Homo sapiens: one gene and its partner. The protein of the gene in region 2 interacts with the protein of the main gene of each other region in a pairwise test. Each region holds a gene or a part of one and is shown on either strand. Other genes may lie near its edges.

Region 1 (8,328 bases), on a different chromosome or scaffold from region 2:
GTTCCCTGACGTCGCTCCAGCACCTAGAACAGCGCTCAGCACGAGGACGCACTCATTAGTGTTTTGTTGAATAAATGACTCCTTTGACACAGCAATTCCACTTCTAAGAATCTTTCCTAAAGAAATATGCACACACGTGCACAGAGCTGTGTGCACAATAATGGCACGAGCAAACAACTGGGGAACGTTTGCAAAGGTTTATTAACTGTCAGTGACTGCTACAGGGGAATCGGATGAGGGGAGTACATGCTGACCAGGAAACAGAGTGAGGGGAGCTTGACCAGGACGCATGGCAATGGGAAAAGCAGATGGCAGATGCTTATACTGGTACTTGGTGTGTGTGTGTGTGTGTGTGTGTGTGTGTGTGTGTGTGTGTGGTGTGGTTTGTGTGCGTGTGTGTGTAAATGCAGAGGAAAAAATCTGAAATTAAACACTCAGAACTGCCCTCAGTAGTCACATCTGGGGAGAGAGGAGGGTAATGCTGTTCCATGCAGAGGTAACCGACAATACTTGTTTTCTAAGGTAGGTGCATGGATACACAAACCAAAATATGCATTAAGTATGTCTTGCTCATCAATGAAAATGTTAGTATCTAACAGAATGACACAGTGTAAGAAAATACAACGTAAACGCTAACATCGAACTCTTGGCACACTAAGAAAAATGACGCTCAACTTTTCACTGTTGTGAACACTTGCTTTCACTTGCTATGCACCTGATGACGAGGGGTCCGCAGCCATGCCCATGTTCGTGAAAGGTCACCACGTTCTGCTTCTCATCATGGGCATGTGTCGTATCCCTGAGGCTGAGGCAAGAAGAGAGAAGGAAATAAGTGGCAGTGAGTTCCCACCACGTGGCAACGCAATCTCAACTCCTCCTGACCTGCAGACCCTGCACACTCCGATTCTGCCCTATCTCAGGACCTGCACACGCCTTCCACGGTTCCTCGAAGTGAACCATCTGTTCATGCCACAGTGACTTCCTCGCCTGGGTTATCAATTCCTAGGCTAGAGAAAGGTGTGGCCCGCATATCAGGGCTTACTTGGGGTTTGGGACCCCACAGCATCCTGGGTAGGGAGGATCCCCGGATATATACAGGGCAGGGAGTAGAAAGAGCATGGGAAATCTCTCATCGTTCAGCCTCAATGCTGTACAGTAGAAAATTGTAAGAAGGGAATGATTTGGGGAGCAAGTGACAGATGGGATACCAGTATCATAACAGAATAGCACGTCTGCAGGGATGTGGGGGATGAGTGGAAGGTTCTCTTACGGAGTTACTCGTCATCTTCCTCAGGGTCGCTGATCTCTTCATAAATCACCAGCTGTTTTCTCTCACGCAGTCTGTGGGTCCAGGCATGTTCCCCCCTTTTGGGTCCTGTGATGGAGAATAGTTGGAAAGTGAGGGTTGGGTAGGTTGGAGAGTGTTAGGCTCTGTTTACTCAAAAAAAGGAGATGCCTGCTTCCTCCCAAGTGCCCATGGGCCTTCTTCATCCAGTTTTTCACATTCTCTGGCTTAGAGAGGCTGAGACCTTAGATCCACACCAACATAGGCCAAATGCCAATTAAAGTTTTAGCTTCTGGCTCCTTCCCTTCTCAGGCTTAGATTCCCAACCTCTTCACTTACGGGAACATTCCCCCATACCTCCTTTCATCCAGCACGTATTTGTTAAGGCCACACAGGCGTACCTTGTTTTGTTGCACCTCATGTTCATACTGCTTCGCAGATGCTGCAATTTTTTTTTTTAATTCTCACCAATTTTACACTTTTCCATTATTATTATATCTGCTATAGTGATCTGTGATCGGTGAGCTTTGATATTATTACTGCAATTGATTTTATTGTTTTTTAGTGTTTTAAAATAATTTTTGTTCTTTATTTTGTGGGTACGCAGCAGGTGTATATTCTTATGGGGTACATGAGATGCTTTGATACAGGCATGCAATGGGTAATAATCACATCATGGAAAATAGGGTATCCATCCTCAAGCATTTATCCTTGTGTTACAAACAATCCATTTACACTTTTAGTTTTTTTTTTAATGTACAATTAAGTTATTATTGACTATAATCACCCTGTTGTGTGTAATTGTTTTGGGGGTACCATGAACTGCACCCATAGAAGTTGACAAACTGAATCGACCAATGTTGTGTGTGTTCTGACTGCTCCACCGATGAGCTGTTCCGCGTCTCTCTTCCTTTTCTTGGGCCTCCCTATTTCCTGAGACACAGCAATACTGAAATGAGGATTATTAACAACCTTACAATGGCCGCTAAGTGTTCAAATGAAAGGAAGAGTCGCATGTCTCTCACTCTAAATCACAAGCTAGAAATGGCTAAGCTTAGTGAGGAAGCATGCTGAAAGCCAAGACAGGCTGAAAGCTAGGCCTATTGCGCCAAACAGCCAAGCTGTGAATGCAAAGGAAAAGTTCTTGAAGGAAATAATAATACTAATACTCCAGTGAACACACGAATAAGAAAGCAAAACTGCCTTACTGCTCAAATAGAGGAAGTCTGAGTGGTCAGGATAGAAGACGAAACCAGTCACAACATTCCCTTAAGCCAAAGTCTAATTCAGAGCAAGACCAGAACTCTCTTCAAGTCCATGAATGCTGAGAGAGGTGAAGAAGCTGCAGGAGAAACATGTGAAGCTAGCAGAGGTTGGTTCATGAGGTTTAAGGAATGAAGCCGTTTCCATAACATAAAAGTGCAAGGTGAAGCAGCAAACCCTGATGGAGAAGCTGCAGCAAGTTATCCAGAAGATCTAGCTAAGATCACTGTTGAAGGTGGCTACATGAAACAACAGATTTTCAATGTAGATAAAATAGCCTTCTATTGGAAGGAGATGCCTTCTAGGACTTTCATAGCTAGAGAGGATTGATTTCAACTTTGAAAGAAGTTCTACTGTGGGTAAAATGCTATCCAATAGCATCACATACTACAGAGAAATCCTTCATGAAACGGAGAGCTAATCGATGTGGCAAATTTCACTGTTGTGTTCTTTTAAGAAACTGCCACAGCCACTCCACCCTTCAGCAACCACCACCTTGATCAGCCAGCAGCCATCAACACCGAGGCAAGACCCTCCACCAGCAAAAAGAGTGTGACTCACTGAAGGCTCAGAAGATTGTTAGCATTTTTAACAAAGAATTATTTTTAAATTAAGGTATATACATTTTTAGACACAACGCTATCGCACACTTAGTAGACTACACTATAGTATAAACATAATGTTTTTATGCGCTGCCAAACCAAAAAACAACGTGTGTGACTCACTTTATTGCAGTGGTCTGGAACTGAACCTGCAGTATCTCTGAAGTACACCTGTATTGGGTAACAGGCATGGCATTGAGCTGAGTCTTAATCAGGTAATGATCCCAGGTAATCACAGATAGAATTGCTTGAGCACCTTTCATGTCATCAGGCCTTCTAGATTAAATTTAATGTCTCCAAACAATTTATGAACTATGATTCCTTATTTCCATCTTACGGACTAGGAATCTGGAGCTGAGAAAATCTGAAAGACTTGCCCCAAGTCACATGGTTTTTTCTATGGGTGACAAATCAAGTCTATCTCTGGAAGTCATGTCTAACATCTCATCTGGAGCTGGGCGAGCTCCTCAGCCCAGTCTGGACCCAGGGTTATCTGGGATCCATGCCACACACCCAGTCCATATACCTGAACATCGCCAGGGAAGCCAGAGGGATTGTTCCTGAATTGCTTCCTCTTACCAGATCTCTCGTGAATCTTCTCAGAGGTAGTTGGTTTTCCCGGGGGGCACAGCTCTTTCCCATCATTTTGTGGGCCAGATGCTTCTGGCACTTCCTCCGAATCATTTCCTTCCTCTGCTGGCTTCTTGGGCATGATCTTTATAATGTGAAGATCACAGATAAATAGTATCAGTGACATATCTATAGTGCTTTTGAGCTTACAAAGGGTCTTCACATGCATTAGCTTATTCAATGTTCTCAACAACACTGGGAGAGTTACACAGGCCTAAATTAGGAGAAACCTGGGAGGGGAGGTTAGAAGGGAAAGGAATGGCCTAAGTGAATATGGTTTCCAGGGATAGAATGCTTATCTTCCCACTCTTTTAGGACTGACATTCTTGCAAACAGCAAAAATCTCCATGTAATTGAGAGTGTGATATACAGATGATTTGGAGAAGAGTAGCATTCTAAGAATTCACAAGGTCTACAAAGGGAAGAGGTTCTGTAAAATACAAGGGATCCCATATAAGCTTCTAGACAGCTGCTGGGAGAGTAAATGTAAAAACATAGGGAGGCGACAAAACACTGCTGGGAAAGATGGTGTGGGGAGATGAATACAGGGAAGGGAGAGGGAAAGAAATGGTTTGCCGAAATTAATCTAGGCAGCAAACAAAGCAGTACCAGATATGACATACTACCCTACTGGGGCACCGACATTCAATGTGGAATTCAGTGAGGTGGTACCCATACCAATTCTGGTTGCATTGGGATGTGTCACTGACCAACAATCTTAAGCTACTTTTTTTTTTCTTTCTTTCTTTCTTTTTTTTTTTTTTTTTTTTTTTTTTTGAGACGGAGTCTCACTGTGTCGCCAGACTGGGGTGCCGTGGCATGATATCGGCTCAAGGCAACATCCGACTCCCGCGTTTAAGCGATTCTCCTTCCTTAGCCTCCAGAGTATCTGGGACTACAGGCAGGCACTACCACGCCCCGCTAAGTTTTGTATTTTTAGTAGAGACACGGTTTCACCATGTTGGGCAGGATGGTCTCGATCTCTTGACCTCGTGATCTGCCCGCCTCAGCCTCCCAAAGTGCTGGGATTACAGTCGTGAGCCACCGCGCCCGGCTCTTAAGCTACTTTTCATTCAGCTTCCTCCCTTATGAAATAGTGAACCATACATGTCAAATAGCCTACAGTAAAGTCCTCTCTGAGCTTGTAAACACTGTTTAAATGTCGTAATAATAACAATTAATACCTTTCACAATCCTTCTTTGAATTCAGTCTCCACACTGGCAACCCAACTCCCAGATCCCTTTACCCTCCAAACCAGAGTTGAATCTGCACTTGTGGGATCACTCATTCAGGGGCCTCCGAGGGATCCCCTGGGCTGGGACTGGGCCTTCCCAGATGCCCCAGGTGCAGACAAGGCACTCAAGGAGCTCACAGTAGGGAGGGGCCAACAATCAAAGTGATTCCTAAGCCATGCAAGTGGCCCCAGCAACACAGCAGAGACCAGATGGTCCTTCCTGTTGAGAGAGTGGGTGTCTCATTGGAAGCACCAGCAGGCCCTATGGGGTGAAGCCCTAGTGAGCAACATCTGAACTTCATAGACAAATGCAAATGTGAATGAGCTTTAAATGGCTTGGAGCTCTGGATTAGACTACCACTGCCACTGCGCCCCAGGAAAATTCTTTAACATCTCTGTACCACGATAGCCTCATTTTATTATTATGTTGCTGATAACTATGATCTAAAACATGAACTATAATTCTTTACTTCCATTTCATGGACCAGGAATCTGGAGCTCAGAGAACTTAGAAGATTTGTGTCAAGTCACATGGCTTTCATATGGATGAAAACTGAAGTGTGTGACTCATTATTATTTGGAGATAATAGAAACAATGTCTTCTTAAGGATTAAATAAATTAATCCATGTGAACTGCTTGAAATAGTATCTGGCATCACTATGAAAACAAAAGAAGTATTAACAATCGCAACTGTTGGTACTATCAAGCCGTCGGTGCGACATCAGGTGTTGTGATAGACATGGGGAGAAGAAGGCAGTGAGGGCATTTTTGATATTCTCCCACTCTTACCAGTGTTCGCATCCGTGGAGGGACAAAGGTTCTCTGGTCCTTTAGATCTGAGAGACACTCACCTTCGGGGAGATTCCCTGGAGCCTGCCGAAAGTCATCTGAGGACGTTCAACTGAAAGAGAATACATCAGAATTTTTCTTTGTTGGTAAAGGTTTCCAAACTCTAGAGAGACTTCTGTCGCATCAGGGTATTCTGCAGCAGAGGGTTATGAGTCCACTCATTGTTGAGGAGTTATTTCAGATTTGCTTCTGAATTATGTTTAGTCATGGTTGGTGCATTTATCTGTGGCATCAATTCAGAATTTTCCATCTCATGGTTTATCACATGGGGACTACACCCCATCACAGTCTCATCTTATTCCATTACATATCTTTTACTTTTTCCCAAATAATTAAATTGATTGGTTAGGAATCTGAACTGTATCCACTCAAGATGTGCAACAACTGAAAATCATTGTACACTTCAAATGGGTGAATCTTATGGTATGTGAATTAAGCTGTTAAATGTGTGATGAACCATGGATGATTTGGTCCAGTGGCTCTGAAATATTTTCAGTATAAAGACACTCCTTTACTGTCAAAACTTGGCAGATACTCAAGCACTGGCTTTTCAGGTCTCTTATAGTGATTGCGGGAGATTGTAGAATCTGGCCTGTTTAGTTGGCGAGTAATAGGTCTATTGGAGACGGTTTGGACATTCTGACCTTGTCTTATAATTATGTTGTCAGAGTAGAAGAGCAAGTAAATACATATGTCCCCTTTATATTCCTGAAATGTACAAAGCTCTCTACCCAAGAACCTATCTTTTTTTCACCCTATGTTATCTCTGCTCTCTGACAAGTGGGAAAGCTCTCTGTGTGTTGGATAAGGGATCACTCCTTCAAACTCTCTTCCAAGCTCATTACGGAGAATCAGGGTTCTTTGGGAATGAGAAGACTATTTGGTTTTGATAAACCAATACAGAGAAACAGCGATCTTTATTACATAATGTGTTCATCACCCTCACTCCTAAGATACCTATCCAATACCTACATGCTGTTAATGAAACAAACTCTGGAAGTTTTTGGCGGATCTACAGTTTTAACACTTTCTTTCTTTCTTTCTTTTTTTTTTTTCACTTGTAGCATTTTTTTAGCAGTCCTTTGATTCATTAACGGTGCTTAGGAAGAACAACATGTCGTTTAAAAAAGAAATATTTCAAACACACAGAAAAGTATGGGGAATAATATTGAGTCCAGTCGGATCTCAACATTACCCCACAGCTATGTTAGGTCTGATTTATTTATTCAGAATATTAGAAAAACTGCAAATAGGCCGGGCGTGGTAGCTCACAGTTGTAATCCCAGCACTTTGGAAGGCTGAGGCGGGTGGATCACCTGAGGTCAGGAAGTTTGAGACCAGCCTGGCCAACATGGTGAAACCCCGTCTCTACCATAAATTAAAAAATGAGCTGGGTGTGGGGGCACGTGCCTGTAACCCCAGCTACTCGGGAGGCTGAGGCAGGAGAATCACTTGAACCCAGGAGGTGAAAGTTGGAGTGAGCTGAGATTGCCTTATTGCACTCTACCCTGGCCGAGAAGAGTGAAACTCCATCTCAAAAACAAAAACAAACAAAACACACTATCAACAAGTCACAGCTGAAGCTGTCTGTGCCGCACTCAGTAATCCCTGCCCGCCCTCCCTCCCTCCTCCACTTACAGCCAGTCACCTTAATTTGATGGCTTTTTATTCACATTCATGTTTGTATACATTTACCATTTACTTATTATCCATAAAATATATATTCTTCTTTTGCATGTTTTAAAATTTTATATGAATGGCCTCTGTAGTTAACTTTCTGCATGCAATTTTTTTTTTTTTTTTCACTCAGCCCTGATGTGTATGAGGGAACAAATGCCTGAGGATCTTTCTCAGGTAGCTGAGCTGAAAAGCAGCTGGGCTTGAGGAGACCCTTTCCAGCCCCTTCCCATCTACTCACCCTGATTCCCACGGTTAGGGTCATTATCCAAATCATTCCCCTGGAAGTCTTCGGCCCGTTTATTACACATGAAAGGTGGGAGGGTGGCCTTGAAACCTAGAAAGAAGCAAAATGTTTATTCCTTAAGAGACAAGCTTGGGCCTGGTATGGTGGCTCATGTCTGTAGTACCAACACTTTGGGAGGCTAAGGCTGGAGAATTGCTTGAGGCCAGGAATTCAAGGCTGCAGTAAGCTATGATTGCACTACTGCCCTCTAGCCTAGGTGACAGACTGAGACTGACTCAAAAAAAAAAAAAAAAAAGGAAGAGACAAGCCGAGAGAAGGTAGGGTGGGTGTGTGTGGGGTGGGGGTAGGGGGGTTGCCGGGATGCCACAGAGACAGTTGGGCTCATCAGAACAGAAGCCTAAGGGAGAGAAACGTGCAGGATCCAGGTATAAGCTCCACTGTGGCCAGTCCCTGCCCTCAGCCCTGACAGGATACAGAAGAGCAGAACACCCAGAAGCTGCCTTGCGATTTTTCCCTGCACAAAAGGAAAATGTGAGGTA
Region 2 (8,328 bases):
ATTCTTATTTTTACATTCATTCAGTGGTTTAAAATCATGCTACTTTTTTTCTTTTTAGGGGGAGTGTCACAGGGAGTCAGGGTGTCTCCCTGTCGTCCAGACTGGAGTAGCTCCATTGGCATGATTGTAGCTCACTGTAGTCTCAAACTCCTGGCTTCAAGCAATCTTCCTGCCTCAGCCTCCCAAGTAGCTGGGATATAGGCATGTGCCACCATGCCTGGCTAATTTTTAATTTTTTCTAGAGACAGGGTTTCTCTTTATTGCCCAGGCTAGTCTTGAACCGGCCTCAAGCAGTTCTCCCACCTCAGCCTCCCAAAGCACTGGGATTACAGATGTGAGCCACCACACCTGGCCATGTCACATTTTATTTTGCTGTATGTTTGGACCATGACTTTCTGGTACAACTTTCCCCCAACAGCTCTTAAAAAAAAAAAAAAAAAAAAACCCTAAAAATTAAAATACTTCATATATACAAAAGAATAAGTATGAACACTTACTATTTATTTATTTATTTTTGAGACAGAGTCTCCTCCCTCTGTCGCCCAGGCTGGAGTGCAGTGGCACAATCTCGGCTCACGGCAACCTTCGCCCTCTGGGTTCAAATGATTCTCCTGCCTCAGCCTCCTGAGTAGCTGGGACTACAGGTGTGTGCCACCACACCTGGCTAATTTTTTGTATTTTTTTTTTTTTTTTTTTTTTTTTGAGAGGGAGTCTCGCTCTGTCGCCGGGGCTGGAGTGCAGTGGCGCCATCTTGGCTCACTGCAAGCTCTGCATCCTGGGTTCATGCCATTCTCCTGCCTCAGCCTCCTCAGTAGCTGGGACTACAGGAACCTGACACCACGCCCGGCTAATTTTTTGTATTTTTAGTAGAGATGGGGTTTCACCGTGGTCTCGATCTCCTGACCTCGTGATCTACCGGCCTCAGCCTCCCAAAGTGCTGGGATTACAGGCGTGAGCCACCGCGCCCGGCCAATTTTTTGTATTTTTAGTAGAGACAGGGTTTCACTGTGTTAGCCAGGATGGTCTCGATCTCCTGACCTTGTGATCTGCCCACCTTGGCCTCCCAAAGTGCTGGGATTACAGGTGTGAGCCACCATGCCCAGCTCGAACACTGACTTTTTATAACTTGGTAATATAATGAGAATCTTTGAACCTACTATTCAATCTAAGAATACCTAATAAATAATTTGCATCTTTGTGCTCTCCCAAACCTGCTTATATACCTTTTTGTCCCACTGGAGATTTTAAATATCCTTTTAAAAAAATTATTCAAGGAAGACTAATACGCCCTTACTAAGTGTATTCAACCTCTCAACTGTACTCTCTTCACTAGAAACCCGGGAGGATTCCCTTCTTGGACCTTTTGGTCTGCTCTGATTTGCATCAGTTGTTCTTTAGATCTACTCCCTGTCATCTTGGGACTTGTCTTTACTGTGCTTTCTGGATTAGGTTAGCTGTTTCTCAAACCCCCTCAAATAACTTCTTCAGAAAAGATATAATGGAAAGTAAACTTGGAATTTTTGCATGCCTGAGAACTATTTTTATTTTGCTTTCGATCTTGATTGATGGCTCAGCTAGGTATTAAGTTGTAGGCTGAATATTATTTTCCTTCAAAATTTCAAAGGCCTTGCTCTCCTTTACTAGCATGCATCATTGTTAATGAAAAGTCAGAGAACTCTGAATTCTGCTCCTTACTATTACCTCCTCCTCTCTTCCCCTGAAATTTTACAGACCTTTGTTTAACTCTGGTATTCTGAAATTTCACAATGATGTGTTTAGGTATGTGTCTTTGATACTTGTTGAGCCCTTTCATTTTAGGTAGTACTTGAGTATCAGAAAAAGGATGGAAAAGATTTTTCACACACTAGAATAGGGTAGGGAACACATGGCTTTCCATTTGGAGGGGCTGGTGTGAACAAGAACATGGAGATTAGAAATGATACGACCATGACTTCGGGACAGAAAGGCTGATTTGCTTGACATATAAGGAAATAGAAATAAGATTGGGAAGATTGATGGATGTTGTCTCATGGAAGGCTATGACTTGACTGTTACACATTTAAAGTACATGTTCAGAAAGAGGCTATAATTGAAAGAAAGAAAGAGGCTCTAATTGTTTTCCTATTACATTTATCCATCACTATCTTCAAAGGATTGGTTCCAGGACCACCCACTACCCCTGCCCCTCTGTGCACAGTTTCCAAGAGATGCAGATGCCCAAGTCCCTTATATAAAATGGTGCAGTATTTGCATATAACCTATCCACATCTTCCCATATACTCTAAATCACCTGTAAATTACTTATAATACCTAATACAATGTAAATGCTATGTAAATAGTTGCTATAGGGTAATTTTTAAATTTGTGTTTTTCATTGTATTATTATTTACTTATATTTTGAATATTTTCTATCGATGGTTGATTGAACCCTAGGGTGTGCAGGGCCAACTGTAGATCACTCCTTAGTGATCATACTTCTTGCTTCCCTATTCCTGCTACCTCCCCAGCAACAGGATAAGACCTCGTCTAACCTACATGAAGCTGCTTCGGACTGTGTATGCTCAGCTCTCTATGCCATTGAGAATGTGGAGACTAACTTGCCATTAGCCATGCAACTTTTTCAGGGAGTGCTGACATTGGAGACTGCCTATCATATGGCCGTGGCACGTGAAGATTTAGACAAGTGAGTAATTGTTTAAGTCTGGAGCCCTGGGTTTACCTACAGTCTGGTCATTCTTTTAAGTCACTTTTTATTATTCGTCTGTCATTTGTGATTCTCAGTGATTCTGTAAAGTACAGATAGTGCTTCCTAAAGATGCTCTACTATGCTCTTCTGAACCTAGAGTGGCAAATTGGGTGCAGGGTTTGTAGAATTACCATAGAAAGGTAAGGCTTTAAAAGTTGGAGACAAATTTTAAAATATCAAGTGTGATTTGATGGGAGTTTTTATTCAAATGTTTTAATAATTGAGAATTTGAACTGACAAGTCACTTGCGTAGGAGTGTACGATCTAGGTAAAGGTGTCTGTCATGGGGATTGTGATACAGCATAGTAAATAATCACTAGATGTCCCTTAGACTGAGGAACCTTTTATTTATTTGATTAACTGTGCCTGTATATACTTATAATATCCAGATTTCTGACTCATTGTTCTCATTCCCCTGTCTTCTACAGAGTTCTGAATTACTGCCGTATTTTCACTGAACTATGTGAAACTTTTCTTGAAAAAATTGTTTGTACTCCAGGCCAAGGTCTTGGGGACCTTCGAACTCTGGAGCTGCTGCTTATCTGTGCAGGCCATCCTCAATATGAGGTAGTGTTTATGCTATTCAAAGGCCATTATTCTCCAAGTTGTGTGCTGCATATTATCTATATTTCATTACCTCGTGCCCAAATTTTTATTGTTGAGAAATTACAGTCTTGTTTTTAATTAATGTGATTTCATCTGTTTTGGAATTTTTTAAAAAAATTATATTTGGGTTTCTGCATTGTGTCCATTTCTGTTTTCTTACCTGGTTGGCTGGGCTGTTGTAGGCCCCTCAAGGAACTCGTTAGAAAGCAAGCCTTTCCAATGAACCCCTTGTCTAGCTTGACTTATTCTCTAGAGTGTTACAGCTAAAAAACACCAAATTCTAACTATACCTCCACAAGTCTTAACACCCCCAATTTTTCTCCAAATGATGGATGAGAATGACAAAGGGATTGAAAGGACTTAAGGGTCTCTGTCATTCAGAATCCTTGACATCCTACTTACCGAGGTTTGCTAGATTTTTTAAAATCTCATTTATTTGAGAAGTTTTACCTCTTTATAGTATAAGAAATGAGAAAGGGTCGGGGTTGGTGGCTCACACCTGTAATCCCAGCATTTTGGGAGGCCGAGGTGGGCAGATCACCTGAGGTCAGGAGTTTGAGACCAGCCTGGCCAACATGGTGAAACCCTGTCTCCACTAAAAATATAAAAATTAGTCAGGCGTGGTGGCTCACACCTGTAATATCCCAGCTACTTGGGAGGCTGAGGCAGGAGAATTGCTTGAACCTGGGAGGCAGAGGTTGTAGTGAGCTGAGATCGGGCCACTGCACTCCAGCCTGGGAGACGAGCGAAACTCCGTCTCAAAAAAAAAAAAAAAAGTGAGAAAGAAGTGCTCCCAAGTTGGGCATTGTTTTAAATAGCTCTGTTTTGGATCCTTGATGGGAAAAGGATGGTAGGGATCCTCTTACTGTGCCTTAGGCACAGTGGTCCTGTGACTCTCGGCCTGTTTTCTGTTATCACATACAAGACAACGTTTATTTGTTTTACATAATGTTACGAGGATACCTAGATTTGAATGGAACCCAAAACATTTCTGGGAGAATGTAACACCACGCAGTTATCACTCCTTTAAACAGTACCATATGGAAAAGAGGCTACGAGTAAAATCCCAGGCTTTTTCTCCCTTTCTCTCACACTCAAGGAAACAGGTGAATAAAAGTGACATGAAGCTGAATCAGTTATGTTCAGGAGTTACAGATGGTTTGCCAAGTAAGAAATGTTCTAATCTCAAACATTCAATGAAATGATTTCAGAATTTTCAGAAAAGTACTTTAAAAAAGACTTCTGGCCGGGCGCAGTGGCTCACGCCTGTCAGCACCTTGGGAGGCCGAGGTGGGCAGATCATAAGGTCAGGAGTTCAAGACCAGCCTGACCAACATGATGAAACCCCATCTTTACTAAAAATACAAAAATTAGCTGGGGTGATGGTGCGCACCTGTAATCGCAGCTACTCAGGAGGCTGAGGCAGGAGAATCACTTGAACCCAGGAGGTGGAAGTTGCAGTGAGCCAAGATCACACCACTGTACTCCAGCCTGGGTGACAGAGCAAGACTCCATCTCAAAAAAAATAAATAAATAAAAATAAAAAGACTTCTGGCTGGGCACAGTGGTTTATACCTCTAATGAGGTTCATACCTCTTAACACTTTTGGAGGCTGAGGTGGGAGGATTGCTTGAGCCCATGAGTTCGAGACCAGCCTGGGCAACAAAGCAAGACCTTGTCTCTACAGAAAATTTAAAAAATTAGCTGGGTGTGGTGGTGCACACCTTTCATCCCAGCTACTCAGGAGGCTGAATGGGAGGATCACTTGAGCCCAGGAGTTTGAGGCTGCAGTGAGCCATGATTACACCACTGTACTCCAGCCTAGATGGCAGAGCAAGACCCTGTCGCTACAGAAAATTTTAAAAATTAGCCAGACATGGTGGCAAGCGCCTGTAGTCCTCCTAGCTACTCAGGAGGCTGTGTGGAAGGATTGCTTGAGCCCAGAAGTTCAAGGCTGCAGTGAGCCATGATTGTGCCACTGTGCTCCAGCCTAGGCGACCCTGTCTCTAAAGAAAATATATATATCTTTTGAGACAGGGTCTCACTCTGTTGCCTAGGCTGGAATGCTGTGGTGCAATCACAGCTCACTGTAGCCTCAGCCTCCTGGGCTCAGGTGATCCTCCAACCTCAGCCTCCTGAGTAGCTGGGAATACAGGCATGTGCCACCTACATGCCTGGCTAATTTTTGTATTTTTTTAGAGATGGTGTTTCGCGCCTGGCTGAAATTTGTTTTAAATAAAATAAAACTATGTGGTGGCTCATGCCTGTAGTCCCAGCACTTTGGGAGACCTAGGTGGGAGGATTACTTGAGGGCAGGAGTTCAAAACCATCCTGAGCAAGATGGCAAGGCCCTGTTTCTACTAAAAAAAAAAAAAAAAAAAAAAATTAGCTGAGCTTGGTGGTGTGTACCTGTAGTCCCAGCTACTTGGGAGGCTGAGGCAGGAGGATCACTTGAGCTCAGGAGTTTGAGGCAGCAGTGAACTGTGTTCATTCCACTGCACTCTAGCTGGGGCAACAGAATGAAACTCCGTCTCTAAAAAATAAATAAAAATAAAGACTTCCATGTCTGTTATTGTTTTCTCTAAATTCAAAATTCAGTATACTTTTGGAGGCATTACCTCAGGACTAAATGGAATGTAAAGCCAGTCATTCTAAATGGAGATTTGGGCCTAACGTGGGAAGACAATTTGGGGAGATAATAGTAAATCTGCTAGAGAAAAGGTGACTTCTTAACTGGCTCCACTCATATTATTTAAAAATATATCTTTCTTCCTATATGGTCGTGGTGATAATAAAATGTCTTCTTATTCTATTCCTTTCCCATTCAAATAAATCATCTCTTTTAACCTAACAGGTAGTAGAAATTTCATTTAACTTTTGGTACCGACTGGGGGAACATTTGTACAAAACTAACGATGAAGTTATTCATGGCATCTTCAAAGCTTACATTCAGAGGCTGCTTCACGCCTTGGCTCGACACTGCCAGCTGGAACCAGACCATGTAAGTTCCCTTCTCTACCTCTTCAAATCTTAATTTCTTCCTCTTGTCAGTGCCAACTTGAAAAGGAACTGAGAAGATAGATAATAAACCTGGCTGGGCACCCTGGCTCATGCCTGTAGTCCAGCACTTTGGGAGGCCAAGGCAGATGAATCGTTAGAGCCCAGGAATTCAAGACCAGCCTGGGCAACATAGGGAATCCCCTGTCTCTACAAAAAGAAATAAAAGAAAATTAGCTGGGCCTGGTGGCACACGCCTGTAGTCCTAGCTACTCAGGAAGCTGAGTTGGGAGGATTGGCAGACTCTACAGCTTATACTGAAGAAGTCAGTACCAGTATAATCTGTTAGGTCTATTTAGGGAAAAAAAAAAGCAAAACACTCCAGCTAAACCAGTAATTCTTTTCCTGGGAGTATATCTTAAATCTGCAGAAGAAAAAAACAGCTATTTTATATACAAAATGTTATCTGTAAAAGTAAAAATTATAAACCCATGTACAGCAGTATAACAAGAGTTATATGAATTATATAAGAAGAGTTATGATTTAGCAACTTGATGCAGCAATTAAAAGGTAGTGAAATGATGATATGGTAAGAGAAAAATCAGAATGTAAAATTATGTACTCTTTTTTTTTTTTTTTTTTTTTTTTTTGAGACGGAGTCTCGCTCTGTCACCCAGGCTGGAGTGCAGTGGCGTGATCTCTGCTCACTGCAAACTCTGCCTCCTGGGTTCACGCCATTCTCCTGTCTCAGCCTCCCGAGTAGCTGGGATTACAGGCACCCGCCACCATGCCAGGCTAATTATTTGTATATTTAGTAGAGATGGGGTTTCACCGTGTTAGCCAGGATGGTCTCGATCTCCTGACCTCATGATCCACCCACCTCAGCCTCCCAAAGTGCTGAGATTACAGGTGTGAGCCACCGCCCCTGGCCAAAATTTTGTACCTTATTAAATAGTAGAAAATAAGTGGTTAGATGAAAACTAATACAAAAGTGAAATATTTGTGTGTATGATTTTGCCCCATGAAGATACACATTTTTTAAATCTTATTTATACTGATTTTGTAGTTTAAAAGAATATAGAAATCTATTTGCTTAGAAAAAAATACTAGAAAATTATTAGTTTATTAGAAAACTCTTCAAACATCATGCTTAGTCTCTTCAAATTTTGCCACATCGATTTCATCCTGTTGGTTGGTTGAATCCGTCCTTTAATCTAGGACCTGCAGTAAGTTTTATTGCTTACAATTAAATCCCACGTGCTGTTCTCTTAATTTTAATGTTAGTATTGTGTTTGAGTCATGGTATTTTGTATCTCCACACAACCTTAGTCATGATTTAGTCTGGTGGTTTTCAAACTGCACCCACCCCCGCTATTTTTTAAAGTGAAGAATCCAACTGGGCGTGGTGGCTCATGCCTGTAATCCCAGCACTTTGGGAGGCCGAGGCGGGTGGATCACTTGAGGTCAGGAATTTGAGACCGGCCTGGCCAACGTGGCAAAACCCCGTCTCTACTAAAAATACAAAAATTAGCTGGGCATGGTGGCAGGTTCCTGTAATCCCAGCTACTCAGGAGGCTGAGGCAGGAGAATCACTTGAACCCAGGAGGTGGAGGTTGCAGTGAGCCAAGATTGCGCCACTGCACTCCAGCCTGGGCAGTAGAGCAAGACTCAGTCTCAAAAAAATAAAATAAAGTGAAGACTCCTGTCTTCAACCACATTTTACTTGGAAGCCTGATTTATAAAGCAGGGCCCCTTTGGTTTAAATGGCTCTGTGCTTGATCCCTTTTTTGCCTTTGCTAATTCTGTGGCACCATTTCCCTTGCGGGTAATTTCTTACACTTGTAAGTGTATAGCGCTTTATAATTTGTATAGTGCTTTATAATGTTAGCCATTATCTCATCTGAGATAGCCATCGTTTCCTCCTCATTCCTTCACCTTAATTTCTTCATCTTAAAGCAAGGAGCTTGAACTAGATTAGC

What was found. Proteins that work in one complex are often made in the same cells at the same time.
Region 1: the proteins of TNPO3 (region 2) and SSX2 interact in binary tests that used the Homo sapiens proteins (3 or more experiments, as listed by UniProt).

Annotation. Positions count from the first base shown.
Region 1 is NC_000023.11:52,696,714-52,705,041, forward strand, and holds the end of SSX2 (protein SSX2), read right to left. Parts: intron 7,880-8,328; coding exon 7,784-7,879; intron 5,918-7,783; coding exon 5,868-5,917; intron 3,866-5,867; coding exon 3,730-3,865; intron 2,219-3,729; coding exon of another isoform or gene 2,073-2,218; intron 1,376-2,072; coding exon 1,275-1,375; 3' UTR 1,271-1,274; intron 806-1,270; 3' UTR 183-805; downstream 1-182.
Region 2 is NC_000007.14:128,995,414-129,003,741, reverse strand, and holds part of TNPO3 (transportin-3), read left to right. Parts: intron 1-2,507; coding exon 2,508-2,683; intron 2,684-3,174; coding exon 3,175-3,313; intron 3,314-4,451; exon of another isoform or gene 4,452-4,519; intron 4,520-6,206; coding exon 6,207-6,353; intron 6,354-8,328. UniProt on the Homo sapiens protein: Importin, which transports target proteins into the nucleus. Specifically mediates the nuclear import of splicing factor serine/arginine (SR) proteins, such as RBM4, SFRS1 and SFRS2, by recognizing phosphorylated SR domains.